2 linked regions of the Homo sapiens genome follow. The protein of the gene in region 1 purifies or fractionates together with the protein of each later gene. This does not show direct contact. Each region holds a gene or a part of one and is shown on either strand. Other genes may lie near its edges.

Evidence for each region. The genes of interacting proteins can lie anywhere in the genome.
Region 2: the proteins of OAS3 (region 1) and EXOSC10 purify together in Homo sapiens (affinity purification with mass spectrometry; one large-scale study listed by BioGRID and IntAct). This does not show direct contact.

The regions. Positions count from the first base shown.
Region 1 is NC_000012.12:112,943,658-112,949,053, reverse strand, and holds part of OAS3 (2'-5'-oligoadenylate synthase 3), read right to left. Parts: intron 4,579-5,396; coding exon 4,403-4,578; intron 2,312-4,402; coding exon 2,073-2,311; intron 1,109-2,072; coding exon 955-1,108; intron 194-954; coding exon 1-193.
Region 2 is NC_000001.11:11,064,981-11,069,628, forward strand, and holds the end of EXOSC10 (exosome complex component 10), read right to left. Parts: coding exon 4,579-4,648; intron 3,727-4,578; coding exon 3,665-3,726; intron 3,105-3,664; coding exon 3,028-3,104; intron 1,769-3,027; coding exon 1,738-1,768; 3' UTR 1,638-1,737; downstream 1-1,637. UniProt on the Homo sapiens protein: Catalytic component of the RNA exosome complex which has 3'->5' exoribonuclease activity and participates in a multitude of cellular RNA processing and degradation events.

The sequences.
Region 1 (5,396 bases):
GGTCCAAGGCCATTCCCGGCACAGAGGGGACGATGCTGGCTGCCCCAGTGGGGCCAGGAGCTGGGCATGAGGGAGGTTTGCTCCCTGCTCTTGGGTACACAGCATTGAGGCTCTTGCTGTTTTCAGGGGTCTTCTGGTTAGGGTCTAGCTGGATGGGGTGGCCCAAACCTGAGCATCCAGCACGTGGAAGGCCCTGGAAGGTCATTGAAGGAGCTGCCTCAGCCAGGCGCAGTGGTTTCTGCATCAACCCAATGCCTTCTCTCCCCAGCTCCCGCCCTTTGTACAGTCAGGGTGACTGAGGCTCAGAGAGGGGAAGTGGGAGGGCCATGGCTAACGCACATGGCCATCTTTGGGCAGAGTTGAAAAAGGTGCCTTTCTGGAGGGATAAACTGCAAAATGGGTGCCCTTGTGATGGGCAGAAAGGTCTGGTAACCAGACCATAGCTGCAGAAAAACAAAGGACTCCTTCCCCCGGGCAGTTTCAGCTTGAGCTTGGTGATAAGACTGTTTTACATGCCTGATGCCCTGTGCATTTTTTTTTTTTTTTTTTTTGGGACGGAGTCTTACTCTGTCACCCAGGCTGGAGTGCAATGGAGTGATCTCAGCTCATTGCAACCTCCGCCTCCCTAGTTCAAGCAATTCTCCTGCCTCAGCCTCTCGAGTAGCTGAGATTACACGCACCCACCACCATGCCTGGCTAATTTTCGTATTTTTAGTAGAGACAAGGTTTCACCATATTGTCCAGACTGGTCTCGAACTCCTGACCTCTGACCTCAGGTAATCTGCCCACCTCGGCCTCCCAATGTGTTGAGATTACAGGCGTGAGCCACCACACCTGGCCACCCCTGCTTTTTAAAGCCTGTTCCACACCATATGGCACATAGTAGATGCTCAGGAAACACTGGACACATAAACAAAGTGCAAAACCCAAGGGTCCTGGGGCCCCCTCACTTACCGGCCCCTTCCAAGACTGCACTGGGTCCCCCATCCCCCTCAGAAAGCATGGGTGGTCATAGCAGGATGCTGCCTCCTGGGCTAGCAAATCCCAGTGCCAGGCTGCCCCATTCCCCAGGTCCCATGTGGGGTCAGCTGGGTCCAGGATCACAGGCCTGCAATTTCAGAGAGACAAGAAGGTTCTGGTTAGCAAGAGGGCTCTGGAGTGAAACGGACCTGGTTCCAATCGCATCTCTGCTACTTTCCAGCTGTGTGACCTGGGGCAAATGATTTACCCTCTCTGAGCCTCGATTTCCTTATCCGCAAAATGAGGAAAACAACATTGCCTGCTTATCATTGTCAACCCTGGCTGCACGTTGGAATCACAAGATACCAGGATCCACTCTCAAGGGCTCTTGAGTTACACCCTACAATTCAGCAATTTCATTCCTAGGTATATTTCCAACAGATATGCATATGCACCAAAAAAACATGTCCAAGAATGTTTATGATGGCCCTATTTGTAATAGTTCCAAGTTGAAAGAACTCAAATGTCCATCATCAGTAGAATAGACAACATATTTTGATAAATTCACACAATGGAATACTATACAGCAACAAAAAAGAATGATCCACAACTATATAGCTAAATCTCAAAGACTTAATCTTGAGAACAGAACGAGAAGCCAGACACAAAAGTACATGTGGCATGATTCCATTTAAATAAGATTTAAGAAAAGGCACAACTGTAATTATAAAAGTGTAAGTGGGGTTATTTTGGAAGGTTACTGACTGAGAGGGGACCAGTGGGGTGCTGGAAATATTCTACCATGATCTGGGTGGTGGTTTCAAAGTATGCGGTCTTCACACAGTCATCAGAACATGCACTTTCTGCTATACATCAGCAAAACATTCACGCATAAAACTTGTGGGGCCAGGCACTGGTATATTTTTTAAAACTCCCCCAGGTAATTCTAATGTGCATCTGGGCTGAGTCCAGTGAATTAAAACATGTACATGTAGCATTTTGCTTTGGCCTCTATACCCAAGCACTCAGTAGATGTAACCGGTTTTGTCCTTGTCAATTATCTCCCCCTGGCCCCGGGACAGGAGAGCAGATGGTGGGCTATTAGGAAGTACCTGGGTCTCTTAAGCTGCCGCTGCAAGAACTGCCCAACTGCAGGGTCCTCGAAGCCATAGTTGACAGTCCAGAAAACACACAGGTGCTGATGCTGTTGGATCAGGCCCAGGACAGTTCGGAGGCCTTCGGCTAGGCTGAAAGCATCCTTCTTACAGCCCTGCTCCCAGGCGAAGATGGTCAGCAATTCCAGGGCATAGACCGGGGGCAGCGTCTCCTTCCACAACCCCTGTAGGCACACCTGTGAGAGGGCATCGGCAGGGGACTCAGAAGGAAGAAGGGGAGGAAAGAGAGCCAGCTCTCTGCATAACCAGACTGGGGACCTTCCAGGCCGAGCCTGAGGCAAGATGCTGTGTTCCAAGCCTGTTCCAAGAACAAGTGGCATTTCTCACCAGCCCTCACTGGTAGCTTCAGCCAAGTGGTTGGCTCATATGATGGGGGAGTGGTGGGAGGGAGGGGTGTAAGTTTCAAGTCCCAAGGAGGCAGGGAGCAGTCAGAGAGAAGCCAAGGGTAGTCTGAAATTGCTATCTATCCTCAAATAAAGGTGAAGCAGATCTGGGGTCCCAGTTGCGTGGCTGATTGGAGAAGGACACCAAGTTGTCGCCCTTTCACCCCTGGAGTGGGGTGGGGCAGCGGGCCAGAACTCTGTCCTTCCCTCCTCACTCCAGCCGTCTATCCCCCATCCCAAAATGCATGATTTCTATTTGTGCACCATATACTTGGGATCTCCACGTACCAGGGAGGGATTACTCCATGCCAAGGCAAGAATCCCAGGCCTCTGGGTAACTCCAGAGGGGATGCTTCAGCATGCCAGAAAGTGACCCCCCTGGCTAGAAGCACCCAGCATCTCCACACTCCCTCCGCTCACCCCCTCTCTCTGGGGTGACAAACATGCGTGGGTGCACATGTGTACCCACCACCCAGATCAAGATAGAATTTCTAACGCCCAACCAGGCTGGCTCCATAGTTGTATTAATTAATTAATTAATTTATAGACAGAGTCTTACTCTGTTGCCCAGGCTGAAGTGCAGTGGCTCAATCTTAGGTCACTGCAGCCTTGAACTCCTGGGCTCAAGTGATCTTCACGCCTCAGCCTCCTGCGTGGAGAGGACCACAGGCGTGAGCCACCATACCCAGCAGTTTGCCCTTTTAGGAAGTACCAGGCTATTAGCATTTTCTGCCCCTGGAGAATCTTACATGGAAAGAACCTGAGTAAGATTTGCCGATGCATATATTTCTTTATGTGCAAGTGGAGGAAACAGAGGCCCAGAGAAGGCTAGGAACTTGTCCAGGGTCACACAGCAAGAAGATGGCTGAGCCAGAACTGGAATCCAGAATCTCTTCCTTGAGAGACCTGCTTATGATGACTGGTCCATGTGCTGCAAGATTTTGGGGGAGCCTGTTCCCCCATCTCCAGGCATAGGCTGGGCACACTTTCCCCAGTGCATAAGAGTCTGGCAACAAACATGAACAGAGCAAGGGAGCATCCCTGAGGCTAGGGAGGGAAGTGTACCAACTCCGCATATACCTCATACCATACCAGACAGGCCAAAGCCCTGAATATGAACAGAAATACAATAGGAAACAATATGATGGCAGGAAATATGAAAGAGTCATTTTACAAAGTCAGGACAGGGAAAGACCTCTTTTTTTTTTTTTTTTTTTTTTCCTTGAGATGGAGTCTGGCTCTGTCACCCAGGCTGGAGTGCAGTGGTGCAATCTTGGCTTACTGCAACCTCTGCCTCCTGGGTTCAAGAGATTCTCCTGCCTCAGCCTCCCGAGTAACTGGAATTACAGGTGTGTACCACCACGCCCGGCTACATTTTGTATTTTTAGTAGAGACAGGGTTTCACCATGTTGGCCAGGCTGGTCTTGAACTCCTGACCTCAAGTGATCCACCTGCCTCGGCCACTCAAAGTGCTGGGATTCCAGCCATGAGCCACTGCACCTGGCAGGATAGGGAAAGACTTCTTAAGACACACAAAGAATAACTCATTTTTCAAAGGATATATCTGAGTACATTAAACTGTAGATATTTTGTCCTACAAATAACCTTTAAACAAAGCAAAAGCCCAAGACACAGACTGGAAGACTATTGGAAGAATGCATTATATTAACTAAATAAGGATCAGTATCCACAATATATAAAGAGCTTCAACAAATCAGTAACAAGACAGCTAACCCAAGAGAAAATAATGCACAAGGGACATAAACAGACAATTCCCAGAGAGAGAACATGAATGGCCACTAAATGTAAGACAACAGTTTCACGACTATGAAAGCACAAAGCAAACAGTCACATGTCTGGAGAAACCCTTCCAAGTGGCTTCACCTGGTGGTACCAGTGCTTCACCAGCAAGATTAGGTTCTTCAACTTGGCTGGGCGAATGTTCACAAAGTTCCTCCGCAGCTCTGTGAAGCAGGCCGCATGCTCGCCCCCTTGGCAGCCACTGTTGAGGAGGGTAGAGTAGACTTGTGGCTTGGGTTTGACGCCGGAGCCGGCCTGACCTGTTGGTGTGAAGCGCTGTGAGTTAGGGAGGGCACTGAGGACACAGGATGGAGGGCGGTGTTGGTGCCGAGCTCAGCCTGGGGCGCTGAGAGAGAGTGGGAAGAATTCAGAGGGGAAGAAATCTGGTAACATGGGAGTCGGGGGACTGGGAAGAGAGCCTGGAGCTTTTCAGGAGGCAGGGAAGAAGAGCGGCACTCCAGAATGCAGTGGGAGAGTCCCTCCATCCCAAATGGCCAGGCAGTCCCTAGAGCAACAGCTCAAAGAGGAGCAGCTGCATTCCAAGATGGTTAAACAGGAAAGTTGCTTCCAGCTGAGTCAGCAGTGCCTGCAGCCTGGCAACTCTCTCCTCCCTGAGCCTTCCTCAAAACACCACTCTACATATCCTTAATTAAGAGGTGTCACGGAGAGGAAAACGATGCCCAAGAAATAAAAGGCAAAAAGCCCTGATCCTTTAGCAGTGGTTGTTGATATTTTTTACTACAGGCCTGGCGCTGTGGCTCACACCTGTAATCCCAGCACTTTGGGAGGCCAAGGTGGGAGGTTCACCTGAGGTCAGGAGTTCGAGACCAGCCTGGCCAACAAAATATACAAAAATTAGCCAGTCATGTTGGCACTCGCCTGTAATCCCAGCTACTCCAGAGGCCGAAGCACGAGAATTGCTTGAACTCAGGAGGCAGAGGTTGCAGTGAGCTGAGATCGTACCACTGCACTCCAGCCTGGGGGACAGAGCGAAACTCTGTCTTAGAAAAAAATATATATTTTTTTTACTGCATACTGGGCACTGGACAGAAGGTCTTTACATGTATCCCCACCACAA
Region 2 (4,648 bases), on another chromosome or scaffold:
CTGGGCTTTTAGTTGGACACACGGATGACTGAAATAATGATATTTCCTAGTACCCCTTGCTGTGGTCTTGTGACTAAGTTCTGACCAATGGGAAGTTGAAATGGGCAGTATCCTATTCAAAGAGATTGGGTGCTGTTCTTTCCTCCTTCCAGCAGACTGGAATGAGAATGTAATGGCTGGAGCAAGGGCAGTCACCCTGCACCATGAGGCGGCAGCCTTGTGTTTGAGCTGAGGATGGTAAAACAAGATAGGAGCCTGTGTCTGATGATCATGAGCATCACACTAGCTCTGGGCCAACTATGTTTACAAAAGAGGAGGAAAATCATCTCTCTTGTTAAAAGTCACTATAGTTTGGCTTTTCTGTCATTTTCAACCAGTCTAGTCCTAGCTAAAACAAACTCCAGCCTATCTTAGGACAGGGCTGTTCTCTGCTGTTCAAGAGTGGGAGCTCTCTGACGGCAGTGATGTGTGATTTGGCTTGGTACCCCCCAAAGGTTATCATATACAGTTGGCAATCTCAATACTTTGTGGGATGAATTTCAAAGAAAAAAGGTTTCTAGGTTAAGTATTTGTAAAAACCAAAGTAATGGCATTTTGTGCTTTCCTGATTTATTAGCCCATCTCAGGATTAAAATAAAATGAAGTTCTAAAGAAATTATCAGAGACTGGGTCACAAATTTATATAAAAGTTTAGTGAGTGCTGCATTATTAAGAATAGTACCAAAAATGAAAACCTAAGCGTTTAACAATGGGGGTTGGCGAAAATAAATTTTAGATTGAGAAAAGTGTCATAACACAAACTTTCAAGGTGACAAATGATAGAAACCTGAACCCAAGATATATTTTAAAAATATATCTATATACACATAGCGAAAGCTTATAAGGAAATACAGCAAAATGTTAATCTCAGCTGGGTGTGGTGGCTCATGCCTGAAATCCCAACACTGGCAGGACAAGACAGGAGGATTGCTTGAGGCCAGGAGTTCAAGACCAGCCTGGGCAACACAGCAAGACCCCATCTCTATAAAACATAAGAAAAATTACCCAGGTGTGGTGGCATGTGCCTGGGAGGTCAAGGCTGCAGTGAGCTAGGATCACACTACTGCACTCCAGAATGGGCAACAGAGTGAGACCCTGTCTCAAAAAAAGGAAAAAAGCATCTTTGTGTGACAGGACTACAAATGATTAAAATTTTCTCTTTGCATTTGCCTTTTTTTTTGAGACAGAGTCTTGCTCTACTGCCCAGGCTCAAATGAGGTGGCGTGATCTCGGCTCACTGCAACCTCCGCCTCCTAGGTTCAAGCGATTCTCCTGCCTCAGCCTCCTGAGTAGCTGGGATTACAGGCGTCCACCACCATGCCCGGCTAATTTTTTGTATTTTTAGTAGAGAAAGGCTTTCACCGTGTTGGCCAGCATGGTCTCGATCTCCTGACCTCGTGATCCGCCTGCCTCAGCCTCCCAAAGTGCTGGGATTGCAGGCGTGAGCCACCGCACCCGGCCGGCTCTGGATTTTTCTAGAAGTCACCATAACCCCCGGAGCACACTCACCTGCCCACAGACAGCTGAAGATGGTTGCCTGAACAGGATGGCAACCTGCCAGAGCTGTGGCGGCAACAAAATAAAAGTCAGGAATCAGCTTTCTTCAGGAAGAATTTTAATGGTTTAAAAATATGTATGTACAAAAGCAGCACCAGCATTTGGTGCTTCCGGTCCACAGGCGCCACGTGTCTTCCAGGACTATCTCTGTGGCCAGTTGTACCTGAAGCCTCTGCAGAGAGTACAAAAACAACAGTTATTTCTTCCGGGCTGGTTGGATGTTCTCAGATGGTTTACAAAATGGTGCAAATCTTAATCATGCAGAACAGAGGAAGAATGGTTTGCTCAGGGGCCCCAGAGAACTCGGCGGCCCACCAGAGTTGGCTGAGCTGAGCAGCATCTTGAGAAGGCAGACCTGTTTTTCCTGCCCTCGGGCAAGTCCCCTGACCTCAGGGTCGGCTTAATTATTAGGATTTTATGTTTTTAACAAAAACATTTGGCTGGGTGCAGTGGCTCACACCTGTAATCCCAGTACTCTGGGAGGCCAAGGCGGGAGGATCAATTGAGGCCAGGAGTTTGAGACCAGCCTGGCCAACATGGCAAAACCCCATCTCTACTAAAAATACAAAAACAGGCCGGGCGCGGTGGCTCACGCCTGTAACCCCAGCACTGTGGGAGGCCGAGGCGGGCGGATCACAAGGTCAGGAGATCGAGACCATCCTGGCTAACATGGTGAAACCCCGTCTCTACTAAAAAATACAAAAAATTAGCCGGGCATCATGGCGGGCGCCTGTGGTCCCAGCTACTCGAGAGGCTGAGGCAGGAGAATGGCGTGAACCCGGGAGGCGCAGCTTGCAGTGAGCAGAGATCGTGCCACTGCACTCCAGCCTGGGCGACAGACCGAGACTCCATCTCAAAGAAGAAAAAAAAAAAAAACATTAGCCGGGCATGATGGCAGGCACCTGTAATCCCAGCTACTCGGGAGGCTGAGGTGAGAGACTTGCTTGAACCCAGGAGGTGGAGGTTGCAGTGAGCTGAGATTGTGCCACTGCACTCCAGCCTGGGTGACAGAATGAGACTCTCACAAAACAAAACCAAACCAAGCCAAACCACTCTTCAACAACAAGGATAACCCACATGTGCTTACTTTTTCCTCATTCCTAATAGGCTGGTCCAGGAAAATTTCACAACTATTTACACCTATTTTCCCTGAGGTGACCCCAGGACACACGGTAACTAGAGAGCCAGGAACAAGGGGAATCTGAGTCCTGGGGTGCAGTGCCTGGCTCTGTGATGTATGGCACAGAGCAAATCACCTCCCGCCCTTGTTTTCCGAGTGGCGTGAGGGACCTGGCTGTGGGAGGTTCTCTGAGTCATCCTGGTTGAAGACCCCTGGACACTCGCTCCCCAGCTACTCCCCACGGACCACACCACGCAGGGCAGGTGCTTTCTCACTGGGCTCCCTGGGCCACACCGCCGTCCACCACATACCTGTCTGACTTTCCAGTTGGAAAGGACATGCTTTTGTTTCCCACCGACTGTTTAATTTTTTTGGCTGCAATGCATTTCTGAAAAGAAAAGAAACCGTTTAAGCTGGGTGGGCACCTTGACCACAAGATACACAGAAAAACACACCTGAGCTCAGGTGGCCAAAGATTCTAGCAGCACAGGAGTGACTTTAGATCCCCTGAGAGAGGATGTTTCTGTGTCTCTGAAGGCAAGGCCGCCAGGATGCGCTGCAAGAGGAACAGGAGCACCCCAAAGCAGCCCTGCCCCCGCGCCTGTGGAAGCTACAGCCACGCTGTTTCCCTGGCACCAGCACCAACACCCACGAGGGGTGAATGCAGGCTTGTGCTGGCCCCAAAGGGGGTGCTTTTGGCCTGCAGCTATAGTTCCCATGGTAGCAAACACAGAATAATACCCTTTAAAGCCACATGCCAGCTTTTACAGCCTCGTTTTATGAGTTGCTGGGGTAGCTGATCAGTACTGTCTGCCCTTGGGAAGAAATGAGGTGAGGAAAAAGATATGCAAAGGAATGGACTCCTGGATGGGCCTGTCTTCTCAGCAGAGGAGGAGGTCAGAAACAGGCGCCACCAGCGTGCTAAAATCCTCCAGGAGCAGTTCTTACCTTGCCAGACGGGGTCTGTTTATTTGGATCAAACTGAGAAGAAACTTTGGATTTGCTGTTTCCTGAAAGGTAAGAGATGAGAGAGACCTGCGGTCAGGTCAATGAGTTACCACACATCACAGGCTCACAGCGAGGCCGGGACCATGACACTCAGGGAAGCCTTGGCTGTGAGAGCACCCCTGTCACGATGAGGGGCTAGGGCTCATGGCTCACATAAATGAATACATAGCGATCCTGGTCCCTGTGGGCAGTCTGAAAACCAGGCCCATTTCTCTCAGCTCTAGTCCCAGGACCTTAGGGGCAGGTGGCTACAGCAGTGGCCCCCGCACATAAGGAAATCCATTCTGATCTCTGTGCTGGGTGATGCCATAAGGAACTCGGGCTCTGAGGCGACACTCCTGTATAAAGGGCCATTGTGTGGACTGGCCTCTGCTTTCTCTTTTCCAAAGGAGCATGTTGCTCCGAAGGCTGCTAGAGTCGAGAATGCCATCTGTAGCCCCTTCAAAGCAGACGGACTCTCACAGCCCAAGCAGCCATAGGGGTTCATGTCATAGGCTTTGAGATTTTTCAACAAACAAAATTCTGTGTGTGTGTGTGTGTGAGAGAGAGAGAGAGGGTTTATGGGCACAAGTTATAGTGAGGAAGGATGGCGCCCTGGTCACAGTGGAAGTGACAGGTGATCTTGCTAACCCACCATGGAGGCCACCATGAGTTGAGCTCCCATGGAGGAGGTGGTAATGAGGCTGCAGGCGACTGTCCACATTGCCACGGCCTCTCTGGACTACTCCAACAATTCCTGGCTAGCACCATGCCTTGTGCAGGACTCACTTGGCCCCTATATTGTGGTCTCTTTATGGCTTCCTCCCCTCTGACGCGCACAGATGTCCCTGTATGGGGCCCCATTACTTCCTCACCAGCAAAAGCCTTGAAGTCTGACTGGCTGTAGTCGTAAGGCGTAAACTCTTTTTCTGGTGGCTCTGGGTC